Regions from separate parts of the Homo sapiens genome. Here region 2 is linked to region 1. The links come from fine-mapping of genetic effects on gene expression. A gene starts in region 1. The other region holds a variant in brackets. All regions are shown on one strand. Distances are between the middles of the regions.

Evidence for each region.
Region 2: its variant is fine-mapped to the expression of CST7 in whole blood (INTERVAL, PIP above 0.99).

What each region holds. Positions count from the first base shown.
Region 1 is chr20:24,946,113-24,951,485 of GRCh38, forward strand. It overlaps CST7 (cystatin F), which reads left to right and starts at 3,157. Exons shown (of 4, transcript NM_003650.4): 1 at 3,157-3,463. The coding sequence starts at 3,394. RefSeq lists an enhancer at 2,823-2,872.
Region 2 is chr20:24,989,905-24,995,277 of GRCh38, forward strand. It overlaps APMAP (adipocyte plasma membrane associated protein), which reads right to left and starts at 2,847. Exons shown (of 9, transcript NM_020531.3): 1 at 2,690-2,847. The coding sequence starts at 2,784. RefSeq lists enhancers at 2,400-2,900, 2,459-2,518, 2,539-2,618, 2,749-2,988, 2,901-3,401 and 1 more. The variant T/C (reference allele first, on the strand shown) is at 3,031.

The DNA of each region.
Region 1 (5,373 bases):
ATACAAACTACCATCAGAGAATACTGTAAATGCCTCTAAACTAATAAACTAGAAAATCTAGAAGAAATGGGTAAATTCCTGGACACACACACCCTCCCAAGTCTAAACCAGGAAGAAGTCGAATCCCTGAATCGATCAATAACAAGTTCTGAAATTGAGGCAGTAATTAATAGCCTACCAACCAAAAAAAAGTCCAGGACCAGATGGATTCACAGCTGAATTCTACCAGAGGTACAAAGAGGCGCTGCTACCATTCCTTCTGAAACTATTCCAAACAAGAGAAAAAGAGGGAATCCTCCCTAACTCATTTTATGAGGCCAGCATCATCCTAATACCAAAACCTGGCAGAAACACAACAAAAAGAAAATTTCAGGCCAATATCCCTGATGTCCCATCAATGTGAAAATCCTCAATAAAATATGGCAAACTGAATCCAGCAGCACATCAAAACTTATCCACCATGATCAAGTCAGCTTCATACCTGGAATGCAAGGCTGGTTCAACATATGCAAATCAATAAACGTAATCCAGCATATAAACAGAACCAATGAGAAAAACCACATGATTATCTTAATAGATGCAGAAAAGGCCTTCAACAAAATTCAACACCCCTTCATGCTAAAAACTCTGAATAAAGTAGGTTTTGATGAACTGTATCTTAAAATAATAAGAGCTATTTATGACAAACCCACAGCCAATATCATACTGAATGGACAAAAACTTGAAGCATTCCCTTTGAAAACTGGCACAAGACTAGGATGCCCTCTCTCACCACTCCTATTCAACATAGTGTTGGAAGTTCTGGCCAGGGCAATTAGGCAGGAGAAGGAAATAAAGAGTATTCAAATAGGAAAAGAGGGAGTCAAATTGTCTCTGTTTGCAGATGACATGACTGTATATTTAGAAAACCCCATCATCTCAGCCCAAAATCTCCACAAGCTGATAAGCAACTTCAGCAAAGTCTCAGGATACAAAATCAATGTGCAAAAATCACAAACATTCCTATACACCAATAATAGACAAACAGAGAGTGAAATTATAAGTGAACTCCCATTCACAATTGCTACAAAGAGAATAAAATACCTAGGAATACAACTTACAAGGGATGTGAAGGACCTCTTCAAGGAGAACTACAAACCACTGTTCAAGGAAATAAGAGAGGATACAAATAAATGGAAAAACATTCCATGCTCATGGATAGGAAGAATCAATGTTGTGAAAATGGCCATACTGCCCAAAGTAATTTATAGATTCAGTGATATCCCCCATCAAGCTATCATTGACTTTCTTCACAGAATTGGAAAAAACTACTTTAAAGTTCATAGGGAACCAAAAAAGAGCCTGCATAGCCAAGACAATCCTAAGCAAAAAGAACAAAGCTGGAGGCATCATGCTATCTGACTTCAAACCATACTACAAGCCTACAGTAACCAAAACAGCATGGTACTGGTACCAAAACAGATATATAGACCAATGGAACAGAACAGAAGCCCAGAAATAACACCACACATCAACAACCACCTGATCTTTGACAAACCTGACTAAAACAACCAATGGGGAAAGGATTCCCTATTTAATAAATGGTGTTGGGAAAACTGGCTAGCCATTTGCAGAAAACTGAAACTGGACCCCTTCCTTACACCTTATACAAAAATTAACTCAACATGGATTAAGGACTTAAGACCTAAAACCATAAAAACCCTAGAAGAAAACCTAGGCAGTACCATTCAGGACATAGGCATGGGCAAAGACTTCATGACTAAAACACCAAAAGGAATAGCAACAAAAGCCAAAATTGATAAATGGGACCTAATTAAACTAATGAACTTCCACACAGCAAAAGAAACTGTCATCAGAGTGAACAGGCAACCTACAGAATGGGAGAAAATTTTTGCAATATATCCATTTGACAAAGAGCTAATGTCGAGAATCTACAAGGAACTTAAACAATTGACAAGAAAAAAACAACCCCATCAAAAATTGGGTGAAGGATATGAACAGACACTAAAAAGAAGACATTTATGCAGCCAAGAAACATATGAAAAAACGCTCATCATCACTGGTCATTAGAGAAATGCAAATCAAAACCACAATGAGGTACCATCTCATGCCAGTTAGAATGGTGATCGTTAAAAAGTCAGGAAGCAACAGATGCTGGAGAGGATGTGGAGAAATAGGAACGCTTTTACACTGTTGGTGGGAGTGTAAATTAGTTCAACCATTGTGGAAGACAGTGTGGTGATTCCTCAAGGATCTAGAACCAGAAATACCATTTGACCCAGCAATTTCATTACTGGGTATATACTCAAAAATCATTCTACTATAAAGACACATGCACACGTATGTTTACTGCAGCACTAGTCACAATAGCAAAGACTTGGAACCAACCCAAATGCCCATCAATGGTAGACTGGATAAAGAAAATGTGGCACATATACACCATGGAATACTATGCAGCCATAAAAAAGATGAGTTCATGTCCTTTGCAGGGACATGGATGAAGCTGGAAACCATCATTCTCAGCAAACTAACACAAGAACAGAAAACCAAACACCGCATGTTCTCATTCATAGGTGGGAGTTGAACAATGAGAACACATGGACACAGGGAGGGGAACATCACACACCAAGGACTATCTGGGGATCCGGGGCCAGGGGAGGGATAGCATTTGGAGAAATACCTAATGTAGATGATGGGTTGATGGGTGCAGCAAACCACCATGGCACGTGTATACCTATGTAACAAACCTGCATGTTCTGCACATGTACCCCAGAACTTAAGTAATTAAAAGAAAAAGGAAAATCAAGTGATTTTGCTTTTGAAAATTCCTGCTAATGTTTTTCATGCAACATCTCTTTCGTGTGTGGCTCAGGGGTAGAACATTGCATCAGGATTTGCTCATGGGTCTCATGTCTCTTCCTCCTCCCCCAGCAAATGACGGCTGCTCGGAAACTTTTATAAAGGAAGCGGTTGCTTTGTGGCTGATAGATCTGAAGGTGAAGAGCTTCTGGCCAAAATGATTCAGCAGCAAAACACTCCCCTCCCCAGCACCACGCAGGCAGCCCCCTAGCCCCGCCCCTGCCCCATCCCACAGTGGTTTGCAGGGTGGGGTTCCATGCTGTGGCCCTGGCACCTGCCCCTGGGCTGGGACAGCCCACTGTTCCATGCTGCCCAAGAAGGCTCAGCACAGGCACAAACCATTGCCCGGCACTGGCCCGTGCTGCCTGAGAAGGATTGGCACGGGCACAGACCACTGCCCCCACCTGCCCTGCGCCATCTACCCAAGAAGGCTCGGCACGGGCACCAACCACTGCCTCCAACTGCCCCATGCTGCCTGAGAAGGCACTGCACGGCCACCCCCAACTGCCCCGCACTGTCCCTACCCGGGCAGCCATGCGAGCGGCTGGAACTCTGCTGGCCTTCTGCTGCCTGGTCTTGAGCACCACTGGGGGCCCTTCCCCAGGTAAGTGGCGTTCTCCCCTGTCCGCTCCCCGGGGGTCTCTCCCTGAGATTGGCCACTGGTGCCTTGGGTCTTCCCCAGGGCACTTTCCTAGCTTGGAGCCCCCACAGGACCATGCGGTGGTGAGAGGTGCTGGGAGTGGTGAGAGGGGCAAGGGGCTCCATCTGGCTGCAGCTACCTTTGGGGGTAGCAGGCTACAGGGATGAAGGGTTTGGGGGCTGCCCCAGAAGGCTAGGGGCAAGGGAAGCATCTTCTATTCTCTGGCTCTTCACAGAGGTCTGAGAAAGGTCTAAGTAAGGCAGGTCTCCCGCAGCTCCTCTGCGGGACGGAGGCGACAGGGCAGCCACATGCCTGTGGTTAGCCGCTTCTATCTGATGGCTTGTCATTCCTTCCTGCTGGCTGTTGTCCTGTGACTTGGCTCCAGGGACCCTAACGATCAGACTCTTTCACCCTTCCTGAAATCCACTCCCTGAGGGTCAGCACTCAGGGGGAGGGGGGACAGGGAGGAAAGAGCCACTGCCTGTGCACTGGGAAACTGAGACACAGCCAGGCTAGGTGATTTGCCCAAGTCACACAGCCAGGGACAACCTGCTCTCCCCCAAAGGGAACTGGGCCATGGCCTCCCTGGCACAGGAATCAGACCAGGATACTGATGGGGACTTGGGAGGCCCCCACCTCATTTAACCAACCAGGAAGCTGGCACCAGAGGGCTGAGGTGACCCGCTCAAGTCATATGACCCCCACCCAGCAGACAGGGACAGAAGGGGGCTGGAGCCTGGCCAAAGGGGCCCAGGTGGGGGCTGTGCAGCAGGACCACTGACAAGAGGATGGCTCCAGAGCACCCAAGGGGTTCTTGGAGGGTTCTCACCTCCTCCTGGTGAGTCAGGATACTGAGGACTCAGTGATGCTGGGGGACACTGTGTCGAGCTCCCAGGCCTGGCCTAGGGCGGACGCTGCGACTGAGCAGCCAAGGGGACACGGCAGGCTGGAGGAGGGGCCGGGGGCAGCTTCTGCTCTCACTGATGGGAACATGCCACCGCCACCAGCTCTGGGTAGTGCTCAGCGAACATGGAGCTGACCCATGGCTGGCAGAAGGCTGGGGACAGCATACCCGGCCCTGCCTCCCAGCTTGGGAGCCTTCTTAGCTCACGCAAGGAGCCCTCCACCTGCTTCCCAGCCTCACAGGGGCCTCTCCTCCTGGCCCTGTCCTGATGCAGTGCTGCCTGCCTGCTGCCATTCTGTGCCCTGCCCCTTCGTGTCTCCAAGGTCCAAGGGGGAAGCAGGGAAGAGAGGCAAGTTCACTCCAGAGAAGTGGCTCGTTCTCACACCTCAGAAAAGGCTCTCCTGGAGGGGACATGGAGCCAGCTGTCCTAGCGTGTCCTGGGATCTAATTAAACCTACTGACTGCTGAGGGGTTTCAGAGCTCTGCTCATCTCACGGAGCAGGCTAGGGACTATAACAGGGTGGCGTGGGAGCCGATGTGCTGGGCAGCTGGCAACGTCATTTTCCTGGGTGGTGTTCCCGGCCCCTCGCTGGTATGTAATGCTGCACCAAGCCTTTCCCTCCATTCTCAGCAGACCTGCTGTCAGCCACCAAACCCCAGAGAGAAGCTCCAGAGCCCACGTTCACACACACAGAGCGGGCCCTCAGCCTCAGTCCTACCATCCATGAAATGGGAAGATAACTGCACCCCGTCTCCGGCCCTGGGGAGGCTGAACAGAGGTGGCTCGGGGAAGGCACAGGCATGGAGGCACATGGGGCATGGGGTGCTCTCCGCCAGCCTCAGCCCCCTGCTCTGTCTAGTGCAGGCCCTTCTGCCACTGTGCTGGTGACAGCCCCCAGCACCCTGCCCAGGCGCTGTGATCATTTCTGGTGCTTCCAGCAAGGGCCTTCAGTCTTCGGCTGTATAGGGA
Region 2 (5,373 bases), 44 kb after region 1:
AGCAGACTTTTAATTAAACTAAAATCCTTCAGAAGTTTATTGAAAAAGGAGAATTATACAGAATTTAATGTATTGAAACATATTAAATCCTCAATGTATTTATTCTGCATCCCTAAACAGTCACATATGGACATTAAACAGTTCTCTTCCTAGATAGAACTGTGTTTCAAACAGAAAGGAATAGTTCCACAGAGTACAATTAAGTTTCTAAAGCATTTCGGGAAATCAATGTCAAATAATAATTATAAGCTTGCACCGGTATGTTAAAGTACTTAGCTCATCTATGTTCCACACTGAATAAAAGAATTTACCAACCAAATTCTCCATTATATTTCAAATACAGTAATTCAAGAGCTTTGGCATAAAGTCTTATTTCCAAAGCATAATTTTAAAAATACACTTCTCAGTCATTGTCCAGCTGCCAGTTCTATCCTTCTTCATTCATTTTCATTTCTCTTTTGACTCTATTCTCTGTAACTTCATATAAACCACCTCACACACATAGACCTCAATGATCTCATCAGCAAAACAAAGCAAACACCCACCTTTTGTGCCAAGAGTTGGGAGACCACCCAACGTATTACTAGGGGTCCCTACCACTGCTAAAATCTATGTCTTAGTTCTGTCAGTTTAGTAATATGTCTTTCAAGGCTTCCTTTATTCTATTTAGCACATCTAAAGTGCTAAAGTTTATTCTAATAGTTTCGTGTTTTTACTTCTGAATTTAGATTCCTTTACTTCGCCCACTATACACAGGCTTTCCTGGCTTATGTTGAACCCTCGACTTTTAAGGTAATCAAGAATACTATTACATGAACTACTAGAAATGACCACAAAATAAATGAAAAATATAGGAGAAATGCAGAAGAAAAATAAGAAAAACAGCTACCATGTTACAATAATAATTGCGGAAAGGAAGGGTGGTGACAAGACCTCACTTTGAAAGAGATCATTACAGATATACAGAAAAGGGATAAACAAACAAGAAGGACAAACACAGGGAAACAGGAACAATGTTCATGGACAGGGAAGTCAAGGAAATAAGTAAACATAAATGTAAAAGGCACACTGGAAAAGATCAGGCAGTAAAAGATGACTTTAGAATCAGATTTACTTACTCATTAAGGAAGAAATCCCCACAGAGAACCTGAAAAAAACAATTAAGTCTGCCTGCTTGCCCTGGGGCCAGAAGTGTGAGCCAGCCAACTTGAGAGTTGGGACTACCTAACCGGTGCCCTCAGGGGCTGTAGGCCCTGGTTTTCAACACACTGCACCTAATGACAAACTCAGGCCACTGCTCTTCCATTTCTCAGGTAAAAATGCCTTGTTTTCAAGATTTCTGTAGGAAAGTGTTGCCAATTCTTGCATGTCCATTCTAAATGGCTCCTCAATCATCAACAGATGATTAATTCACAATATTCACAGTAAGTAGGGTGATCAGATTGTCCCAGTTTGCCCAGGTTTAGCACTGAAAGTTCTACATCCTTGGAAACCCCAGTCCAGGGCAACGCAGGATGGTTGGTCAGGATATATGGGAGCATCTTCCCGATCTTTTCACTGGCCCAAGGAGTCAACTATCACCGCAAAGTCTTCTCTCTAAATTGCCTCTCTAGAGCCTAAATGCTCCTTCCTGCCATCGCTCTCCTTCAAATGTGTTCCTCTTATCATCAGTCAATAAACTCAGTCTACAGGGGCAAAAACTGCCTCTCATTCATATGTACCCCACCACCTCTTGGCACACTACTGATGAACAAATATTTCCAGTATTTCTATCAAATATAAGTCAATCAGTCCCACAACTTCAAGCTTGGTCTATGGGGCCTCTTGATTCTCCCTGAAACTTAAAAGTTATGAAATTCAGGACACAGAATTGAAAAGTGAATTTTAAGTATCTTATATTGAAATCTATGCTTACGAATCATGATTCAGTTTTTAGCTAACAAAACACAGCATTCTTATATTCTGAAAGATGGGAGAGGAGGCAAAGGGCAAAACCTGATATTTCTTAGGTGTCAACAACTACAGTTTCCTATGTTTCTCCATCCCTATCAGGAAAAACTGCCAGGCTGAATTCTCACAAAAATTGCCTACAATGTCACTACTGTTCTCCACTCTTTCCAAGAACCGCGGTGAGGACTGGTCACGCAGCGTGAGGGGGGCAGGTGCAGAAGAGCAAGTGTAGAAGCCATCTCTTCGCCGGATAACGAGGCAGGACCCCAGCATCTCGTGGGACCTCCTCCCTTCGGGAAATTGCGAGCGGGGAACCAGGAACACGCAGGGCCCCGGCCAAGTAGCTGTGCTCAGGGGGATCATTTAAGCCAAAGGAAGGACAGCGCGAGGGGAGCGAGGGAAAGGCGAGGAAGCAACCGCTATGCAGGGTGGGGCAGGAGTGAGGGAGGGAAGGCAAAGGAGCGGCGCGAGGCGGTCTCGGGTCCGGAGAGCCGAGGACAACGCGGCGACTGGGCGCAGGGTGCACCCGAACCTGAAAGACCTGGCAGGTACATCCGCCTTGTCGGAGCCTGCTTCCTCGGAAAAATGAGTTTTTCTTGGGGATGAAACGAGAGGACTCTGACAACGCGCTCGGCACCGCATCCCCAGGTTACTGTTACTGCCGTCGCCGCTGTCCAAGAGGGTCGCCCTCCACTCCTAGCGGCCCGGCTCCAGCGCCCAGTCTGGGAGTCCGCCCTACCTGCCGTCCTTAGCCTCCGGGGCCTGGCCATCATCGTCTGTGACGACCTGCGGCCGCAGGGGCCGGCGCTGTCGCAGCCCGTCCGCCTCGCTCATGGTACGGGCGCCAGCCTCACCCGCAGAAACCACCTCACACTGAGCGGCGCCGGCTCAGACTCCAGGCCCGCCCTCCCCCGTACGCGGAAATGACGTTGCGCCCAGGGACCATTCCGCAGCGTTCTCCCCGCCCCTTCCGGCCTCATGGGCGGGAGGTCCCCGGCGCGTCGTTGCTCGGCGCTCTGAGGCTAATTCTGACCGCCCGGAAGTGGGGCTCGGAACCCGCTCAGAGATAGCACCGGGAGC[T/C]GCCGGGGTCCCCGCCTGTCTCGGACTCCGGGGCCCAGAACGCGAGTGGTTCAACCTCGGGCTCGTCTAGCCCAGTGCCTGCGCATGCCGCCTTCGTCTCACGTTTCTGAGGACGGGGATGCTCATGACGCACTTGGGAATTGCTAGCACGAGATGTTGGCCACTTTTATCGTTGGAGAGGATAGCGCTGTTTATTCAGTGTCAGCGACCCTGCTCTTACAGGCAGCGTCAAAAATAATGCATTCACACCCTTGGAACGAAGTCACCTCTGCCTGAAAATTACATCCTTCCCCGACTCAGCCGGTTAAGGGGAAAACTTGGGCTAGAAAATGTTTCCCTCTGGTTAAGGCCAGATGTTGAGTATTAAATCTTTTTGTGACGATTACAACAGACATTTGATAAAGTTTATTAAGTTTTGATAAAGTTTATTAAGTTTTGATAAAGTTTATTAAGGATTACCCTTAAGTAAAGTCCAGGTAGAAGTAGAAATTATCACTAACAAAGTTTAAGAAAGCATAGAGAGGCATTGTTCTTTCAACAGTATTGCAGGAAACCAGAAATGTTCCCAGGTGCTGGGAGACGATGGTGGGCAAATCACAGACAAGGCCCCTCCTTATAGAAATTAAACTAGTGGGAAAGATGACTTTAATCAGATCATCATCATAAAATAGACGTAAAATTATCAAACGTAATAATTGCTTCAAAAGGGAAGAGCTGAATCTTGTGAGAGCATTTGAGATTCAAAGAGGAATCGAATCTGGAGGAAGTGACAGGCAGAAGAAATCAAAGCCCGTTACCAGTGGCACGAGGAATTATCTCTGGAAAAGCCATGTTCAAAATGCAGTGTTAAGAAATAATTTCCTCTTGGAGGCTTTTACCTTTTTAAATGCTAGATGGCACTAGAATTCCATGTGAATGCTTTTTATTTATTCATTCAAAGAGCGGAAGAACCAGCTTGAGGGAAGTGGAGAGCTGTGCAAATCCAGTTCTCCAGAGATCCCAGGTAATAATTCAGGCCTCGACAACATTTTACTTCATTCTGTGTCATTGAGAATAGCCAATACAGCTATTAAATCAGGGATAGTGTTAACAAAGTACTGTATGATCTCACGCCTTCCTGCCTGTCTGGACTATCCCTCTTGCTCCCCACCCCCCATTTCAGACATTCAGGATGGCTTAACATGTCTAATCTCATGCCTGGCTGCCTTTGTCCTTGAGGTTCCTTCTTCCTGTGATACACTCTCCTTCACCTCCACTTGGCCAATTATTTTTATCATTCAGGACCCACTTCAAGTATCCTTGCTGAAAATTCTTCTCCCAGTTTCCCAAGCAGAACATCTTCCTCTTTGTCTTCAAGGCACTTTAAACATGTCCCAGCCATAACATTGAACTCACTGCATTGGAGCTATTTGTGTTCCATGCCCAGTGTTAAAGCCCACGCACTGCAAACACCCAGGGACACATTCAGAAGAAAAATAATGGCAGTAAGTTGGGTTTACTGAACTTGCTGCAGCAAAGAAATGCACCAGAGGACCGGTGAGGTTCCTCAAAATGGGGGAGTCATGGGAGACTCCTTGTGGGGTTTGGGGGCTGGAGTTAGTCCATCGATAGTCTTGCCCAGGGTTGGTCAGAATCCGTTAACAACGGGAGTCACTGGAGGAACCGTGGCCTTAGCTCTGGGACATGTAAGTCCATTCGGAGTTATCAGGAGGTCAGCTCGTGGGCTTATCATGAAGCACGTAGGTAGTTGGTGTTACAGTGGTCTGAGCTAGATCATTTGTGCTGCATAGCACGGGTTCAGTACAGTTTTTCTGTTTTCAAGTCACGGTGAAGCACGCTTTGCTTGTTGTATTTGTTTCAGTTATCAGTTCTCCCACCCCACCTTCCAACCAGACCGACTTTGTTTCTCATCGTGCTGATGCCAGTTGTTGGCAGAGGAATGGGACCACTATGATTAATTTGATCAGGTTTCTCAGCACCACTGATATTTTGGGCCAGATAATTCTGTTAGGAGGCGGAGGGGGGCCTCTCCTGTGCGCTGGTGTTTCAGCAGCATCCCTGGGCTTCCCCCACTAGATGGCAGTAGCATCCCACCTAGTCGTGATGATAAAAAATGTTGCCAGACATTGACAGATAGCCCCTGGAGGACAAAACAGCCCTTGGTTGAGAAGCGCTGAGTGAGACCAACCAAAACCCACACCCAACCCTGGCACTGGGGATGAGGCTCACTTCCATCGGAACACTGGCCCACGTGGAGGGCATTTATCTCAACAAAAGCAGGCTCTGCCAGCATGGAAGAAGAAGCGCATGATGCTGGCAGGGAGCCCACAGTATGCCTCGCAG